Homo sapiens: one gene and its partner. The protein of the gene in region 1 purifies or fractionates together with the protein of each later gene. This does not show direct contact. Each region holds a gene or a part of one and is shown on either strand. Other genes may lie near its edges. The genes, in order: AGR3 and C11orf54.

What was found.
Region 2: the proteins of AGR3 (region 1) and C11orf54 fractionate together in Homo sapiens (co-fractionation; one large-scale study listed by BioGRID). This does not show direct contact.

Annotation. Positions count from the first base shown.
Region 1 is NC_000007.14:16,871,875-16,875,699, forward strand, and holds part of AGR3 (anterior gradient protein 3 precursor), read right to left. Parts: intron 1,970-3,825; coding exon 1,906-1,969; intron 1-1,905. UniProt on the Homo sapiens protein: Required for calcium-mediated regulation of ciliary beat frequency and mucociliary clearance in the airway. Might be involved in the regulation of intracellular calcium in tracheal epithelial cells.
Region 2 is NC_000011.10:93,755,144-93,758,968, reverse strand, and holds part of C11orf54 (ester hydrolase C11orf54), read right to left. Parts: intron 3,760-3,825; coding exon 3,583-3,759; intron 1,654-3,582; coding exon 1,504-1,653; intron 1-1,503. UniProt on the Homo sapiens protein: Exhibits ester hydrolase activity on the substrate p-nitrophenyl acetate, in vitro. Regulates DNA damage and repair by regulating HIF1A degradation via chaperone-mediated autophagy (CMA).

The DNA of each region.
Region 1 (3,825 bases):
ACACCTAGGAATATATTAACCAAGGAGGTGAAAGATCCCTACAAGAAAAACTATAAAACATTGATGAAAGAAATTGAAGAGAACACCAAAAAATGGAAAGACATCCCATGCCATGGATTGGAAGAATGAATTTTGCTAAAATGACCATACCACCAAAGGCAATCTACAGATTCAATGCAATCTCTATCAAAATACCAATGATATTTTTCACAGAAACAGAAAGAAAAAAATCTTCAAATTTGTATAGAACCACAACAGACTCCAAATAGTTCAAAGCAATACTGAGTGAAAAGAACAAAACTGCAGGCATCATACTACTTGACTTCAAAATATACTGCAAAGCTATAGTAAACAAAACAGCATGGTATTTGTATAAAAACAGAAACCTAGACCAATGGAATAGAATAGAGAACCCAGAAATAAATCCACGTATTTAAAGTCAGCTGATTTTTAACAAAGGTGGCAAGAACATGCATTGGGGAAAGGACACCCTCTTCAATAAATGGTGCTGGAAAACCTGGATATCCATATGTAGAAGAATGAAACTAGACTCCTAACTCTTACCATATGCAGAAATCAATTCAAAATGGACTAAAGACTTGAATGTAAGACCCCAAACTATAACACTCCTAGAAGAAAATATAAGGGAAGCCCTTCGGACATTGTTCCCTGCAAAAAAATGTATGGGTAAGATTTCAAAAGCACAGGCAACAAAAACAAAAATAGACAAATGGGACTATGTCACCTGAGAAGCATCTGAACAGCAAAGGAAACAAAAGCATAAGGGGACAAACTGTAGAATAGGAGAAATTATTTGCAAACTATTCATTCGACATGGGCCTATATCTAGAATATACAAGGAACTCAAACAACTCAACAACAAAAAACCCCAAATGATTTGATTTTAAAATGGGCAAAAGATCTGAATAGACATTTCTCAAAAGAAGACACACAAATGGCCAAGGATATGAAGAAATTCTCAACATCTCTAATCATCGGGGAAAGGCAGATCAAAACCACAATGAGATATTATCCCACCACAGTTAGAACTGATATTATCAAAAAGACAAAAAATAACAAATGCTGGTGAGGATGCAGAGAAGAGGGAATTCTTATACACTGTTGGTAGGAATGTAAATTAGTACAGCCATTATGCAAACATATAGAGGATTCTCAGAAAACTAAAAATATAACTACCATATGATCCAGCTTTCCTACTACTGAGTATTTATTTAAAAAATCAGTATATCAAAGAGATATTTGCATCTCCATATTTATGGAATCACTATTCACAATAGCCAAGATATAGAATCAACCTAAATGTCCATCAATGGATGGATGGATAAAGAGAACATGTTATATATTCACAGTGGACTACTACCCAGACATAAAAATAATGAAATGCTCTCATTCACAGCAGCATGAATGAGCCTGGAGGATGTGTTAAGTGAAATAAGTCAGATATAGAAAGATAAATACCACAAATTCTGACTCATATAGAGTAGCTTAAAAAAAAGTTGTACTAATAGAAGTAGAGAGTAGAACTCTGGTTATTAGAAGCTGGGGAGGGTTCAGAGCTGGAAGGATAAGGAGAGGTTGATTAATAGATGCAAAAATATAGCTAGATAGGAGGAATAAGTTTGAGTAGTATTCTACAGCACTATAGGGTACATACAGTTAACAATAGTTTATTGTATATATTTAAAAAGCTAGTAGAGAGGATTTTGAGTGTTCCCACCAGAAAGAAATGATATGTTTCAGGTGATGCATATGCTAATTACACTGATTTGATCACTACACATTGTGTACATGTATCAGCATATCACTCTATATTCCATAAATATGTACAATTATTATGAGTCTACTACAAATAAAAGGAAAAAAATGAGCTGAGAAGCATGTTACCTTTTTTGAGCATAAAAGAGACCTTCTTCATAAGTTTGTACCCAAGTGATGTCATCTCCCCATCCTGAAATAGAAGAGAGAAATCAATGCAGTAACCCAGAACTAGAGAAGAGCTCGGAAATGGGTATCTAATAATCAGATATCTACCTACAGATATTTAACTAAGCCATCAAGCTGTTGGCTGACATATGGTGCAGAGGACACACAATTTTCACAAGATATGGAGGTGATTTCCCTTTAGATTGCAGTACTGAGGTTTTGCTACTGCATTTCAAACCTCGAGGCCCATGGCCTTGAACCCAGTAAGTACTCAATACATGTTGTTATGATTAGAGCTGATTGAAAGGACATCTTTGGATAATGTAAAAGCTGTGGCTTTAGGAACGCTTGGAAAGTAACAGTTCATCTTTGCATACTTTGTAATATTATTAGGAATCCTTTCGGCTGTACTCTACAATGCCCTCCTATTTTGGGTCCCAAGAGATGTTGACCTCTTCTAAGTCAGTATACGTTGTGAAATAAGGGAATTCCAAGTTTTGCTTTGAATTCTGACATGGAAAAAATTCTTGTGTGGGAATTTCATGGCCAAGAGACATAATAAAACGCATGTGTTTTGGAAACACCCAAAAGAATGGAGAGAAAAAACAGAAAGCAATGAATATAGAGAGAACCCATTAGCCTTAAAGAAATGGTATGAATAGTTGGGAATGTGTATAAGCAATTAAAGATAAAATCATCAAGTAGAAGAATGTGCAGAACCTCCAAAAACATTACTGAGTATTTTCAGGAAGTGTCTCAGTCTACGAATGAGAGAGATTGAATTAATGTGAAAATTAGCAATATTTGGAAGTCAGTTTGGGCCCAGGTTTTCTTGTACATTTCAAATGTTGTCAGACCACAGTTTCTGGCTTTAATATCATGGTAAATATGATAGTAATTTGATAAATATGATTCCATGATTTTTGCTTGTTTTTCATGTTTGTTTTCTGGCGACAGCTTTATTGAAATAAAATTCATACGCCAATACAACTCACCTATTGAAAACGTATACTTTTGGCCAGGCATGGTGGCTCATGACTGTAATCCTAGCACTTTGTGAGACCAAGGTGGGTGGATCATTTGAGGTCAGGAGTTCAAGACTAGCCTGGTCAATACAGTGTAATCTGTCTCTACTAAAAATGCAAAAATTAGCTGGGTGTGGTGGCATGTGCCTGTAGTCCCAGCTACTCGGGAGGCTGAGGCAGGAGAATCGCTTGAACCTGGGGGTGGATGTTGCAGTGAGCCAAGATTGCGCCACTGCTCTCCAGCCTGGGTAACAGAGCGAGACTCCATCTCAAAAAAAAAAAAAAAAAGAAAAAAAGAAAATGTGTGCTTTTTTCAGTATATCCACGAAGTTGTGCAACCATCATCACATCAATTTTAGAACATTTTCATCTCCTCAAAAAGAAACCCTATACCATTTAGCTATCACCTGCTCCCCATTTTCTTCAAATGCCACAGCCCTAAGAAACCCCTAATCTACTTTCTGTCTCTATAGATTTGCTTATGCTGGACATTTCATATAAATGGAATCATACAATATGTAGGCTTTTGTGACTAGATTTTTTCACTCAGCATAACCTTTTTAAGGTTCATCCTTATAGTGCCATGTATTATTATTTAATTCATTTTTTATGGTCAAATATTATTCCATTGTATGAATATACCATATTTTATTTATCTGTTCATCAGTTAATGATATTTGGGTTGTTTCCACTTTTTGTCTTTTATGAATAATGATGCTATGAACATACATATACAAGTTTTTCAGTGGTATATATTTTCATTTATCTTGGGTATATACCTAGGAGTGGAACTGCTGATCAAATGGTCACTCTGTATTTAGCTTTTTGAGGAGCTGCCGGGTTATTTTCTAAAGTA
Region 2 (3,825 bases), on another chromosome or scaffold:
TGCAGTGGGATGATCACAGTGGGCCTGGAAAAAGCACCACAAGTTTCCACTCTGGTGTGTGGGATTGGCAGCTGGGCCCCCAGCCTTCAGGCCTTCCCTGGCCCGAAAGTGGGGCCTCACCGGAAACCCGCCCCCTTCTGCCCCGGAACCTGTCTGCCTCCTGCTGCCGATCACGGAATCCAGGCTGTAGGTGCCAAGGGGTGCCTGAAGGCCAGTGGGGAGCTGCTCTCAGCCGCCGCTCAGCTTCCCTTCTACGCTCGTGTCAGCGCCCCAAATCCAGAAGGGGCCGGGACGGCAGGGGGCTGGTGTGTCAGCAGTGCCCTGAGCGTGTGCACACCTGGCTGGGCTGCGACAGCGACCGGGCTCTGCCTGACTTTGCTCCTGGATCGGAGCAGGCGCCGACAGCAGGGAGAAGCCAGGCAGTGGGAGCAGGCATTTCCAAGCCTGTAAGAGCAGTGGGGGCCTTCCCAGACCCCCAAGAATGCAGGAATGCCTGGGTCCGCAGCCACGGTTTGGGCAGCTGCAGCTGTGTGGAGAAGGCAGGGCTCCTGCCTGCTCCGTGGAGCGGGAGACCCAGGTCTGCAGCCGCGGGTTTGAGCTGCTGCAGCTGCGCCTGGGCAGTTGGGGCTCTCGCCTGTTCCCACTGGGAGAGCACAGGGATGCCAGGGACTACAGCCATGGCTTGGGCGATTGCAGCGGCACCAACGGAGCTCCAGCGCCAACTCGGAAGGGGCAGGACTCCCACCTGTCTTCAGCTCCCACCCGCTCCATAGAGTGTGTAGCCTCAGCCGTGCCTCCCTGCTGCAGCCGCTCCAGAGAGCCTGCCGCTGCCATCATCACTATGTTGACCAGGCTGGTTTTGAATTCCTGGCCTCCAGCGGTCCTCCCACCTGGGCCTCCCAAAGTGCTGGGATTACAGGCATGAGTCACTCTGCAGGCCTTGAATTTATCTTGATCTTAAAAACAAACATATCCAAAATAAAGTTCTAATATACTAACATGGACAAAGATATTATCTTACAATCTGATTTATAAAATTATCATTTAAATTTTAAAGTAATACAATCATAATAAAAAGGATTTGTTTAAAGTGTCTTCAAATGTAGAATTCCCAACACATACTTTACAATCCTAAGATCTGGCCCGGTGCAGCGTCTCACGTCTGTAATCTCAGCACTTTGGGAGGCCGAGACAGGTGGATCAGCTGAGGTCAGGAGTTCGACACCAGTCTGGCCAATGTGGCAAAACCTTGTCTCTACTAAAACTACAAAATGAGCCGGTTGTGATGCTGCATGCCTATAATCCCAGCTACTCAGTAGGCTGAGGCAGGAGAACCCCTTGAATCCGGGAGATGGAGGTTGCAGTGAGCCAAGATTGTGCCACTACACTCCAGCATGGGCAACAGAGCAAGGATCCGTTTAAAAAAAAAAAAAAATCCTAAGATCTTAAGTAAGTGCACACACACAAACTCCTTCATGCATGTATGCACACATGGGCTCTTACCATAATGTGAGACTTCACTTTTCCCTTCTGAATTATGAAAGTACCTCCCATTCCTATAGGCTTATTTCCATAATGTTTTTCCAGGGTCTCTCTCATACAAGTCACAAAGTTAAGTGGTCCAGTTCTTCTTTTGGCTTTCACCTCAATTACCTATAGAGGACATAAAGATGCATACCATTGACTATGCTGCAAAATAACTACTGAAATAAAACATTATATAATTTAATTCTATCAAGCAAATATTCTGTTCTTTGCTTAGAGCCCCCAGATCTGAGTTGAGATGTTGCAATCCCGTGAATTTTGATCAGTCATATATATATGTATGCACACACACACACACATACTTATCAGTTACATGTAATTTACTAGTAAGTCTTAAGCATGCTTTCTTGAACTGAGAAACTGAGAAAGACAAGTTTCTCAGTGCAGAGAGTCTAGAGACTCTTAACATACGTGTCGAGGCAGTCAAAGATTGAGAATTACCTTTGGTAATTCTTTGGTTAAAGGAATTAACCTTTGGTAAGTGGGGATGAGGAGAAAATGATTACATTTTCTCACTTCCCTTAAAATTCTGTATTATCTCCACAACTTGGACGTTAAGTATTTTCACTTCTCAATCTCTTATCTCAAAGTAGCTGAAGAGGCTATCTCTACTTCCAAAACTGGAGAGTCTTCACAAAAGCTAACACTGAAATCATATTTTTGTGTACTAATAGGAAGTAAATATCAAGTAAGGCATTAGTTTTCCTTACTTTGTTCTTGCTGTAAGTTTTTGCTACCACCATTTCTATCTAGAGCAATGTGTGATTCATCAGAAAGAAGCAAATAACCTATTTACTACCTGTAAGTAGGCATTATTTATTTTAGCTGTATGGTTCATGTAGATGACAAACTCACTCCCCAAATTAATATTCTATTACCTTTTAGTTCTCAGAAAAAGGTCTTGCTTACTAAGTAGTCTTTTTTTTTTTTTTTTAAGACAGGTCTTGCTGTCACCTAGGTAGGAGTGCAGTGGTGTGATCATAGCTCGTTGCGGCCTCAAACACCTGGGCACAAGGGATCCTCCTGCATCAGCCTCCTGAGTAGCTAGGACTATAGGCATGTACCACCACACCTGGCTAATTAAAAAAAAAAATTTTTTTTTTTTTTTTTTGACAGGGTCTTGCCATGTTGCCCAGGCTGGTCTGAAACTGCCAGCCTTAAGTGATCCTCCAGCTTTGGCCTCTCAAAGGACTGGAATTATAGGCATAAGCCATTGTGCCAGCCATACTATTCTTTTTTTTTTTTTTTTTTTTTTTGGAGACAGAGTCTTGCTTTGTTGCCCAGGCTGGAGTGCAATGGTGCAATCTTGGCTCACTGCAACCTCTGTCTCCCAGGTTCAAGCAATTCTCCTGCCTCAGCCTCCCAAGTAGCTGGGACTACAGGCATGTGCCACCTTCCCTGTCTAATTTTTGTATTTTTAGTAGAGACGAGGTTTCGCTATGTTGGCCAGACTGGTCTCAAATGCTTGACCTCAGGTGATCTACCCACCTTGGCCTCCCAAAATGCTTGGGAATACAGGCGTGAGCCACCGCGTCTGGCCTCCAGCCATATTATTCTTAACCTTAAAGATGACTTTTGCTCTGCCTGTCATACTCTCTGAACCTTTCATTACTGGGTTATTTAAAGAGCTTTGACTTAGGAAGCTCTAATTTTCTTTTTTTTTTTTTTTTTGAGACAGAGTCTCACTCAGTGGCCCAGACTGGAGGGTAGTAGCATGATCTTGGCTCACTGCAACCTCTGCCTTCCGAGTCTGAGCGATTCTCTCACCTCAGCCCCCCCGAGTAGCTGGGATTACAGGCACACACCACCACACCCTGCTAATTTTTGTATTTTTTGGTACAGATGGGGTTTCACCATGTTGACCAGGCTGGTCTTGAACTCCTGACCTCAAGTTGACCTCAAGTTATCCACCCAGCTTGGCCTCCCAAAGTGGGAAACTAATTTTCTTAGCAAAACCATATTTATGGCAGTAAAAGTTCACATTTTTAGCTTTCTGAGAACATTTAGGGAATATTGTATTTTTATGGACACAATCACCTTGCCAGGTTGGCCTTCACTGGCAAAAAGATTAGCCAGTAATGCACACTGAAAATCATGACATTTCTCACTGTATTTCTCCAGTAGGCACCCTCCATCTGCAGGGTTCACATGGGCAAAGTAACTTCCATTTACAGGAGGCTTGTGTTCACTTTCTGTCTGAATAACTGGCATAAACTGAAAAGAAAGTGAGGCAATTAGTCAATCTTTGTATCTCTGCAAAGAGAATATCTTGAATAATGT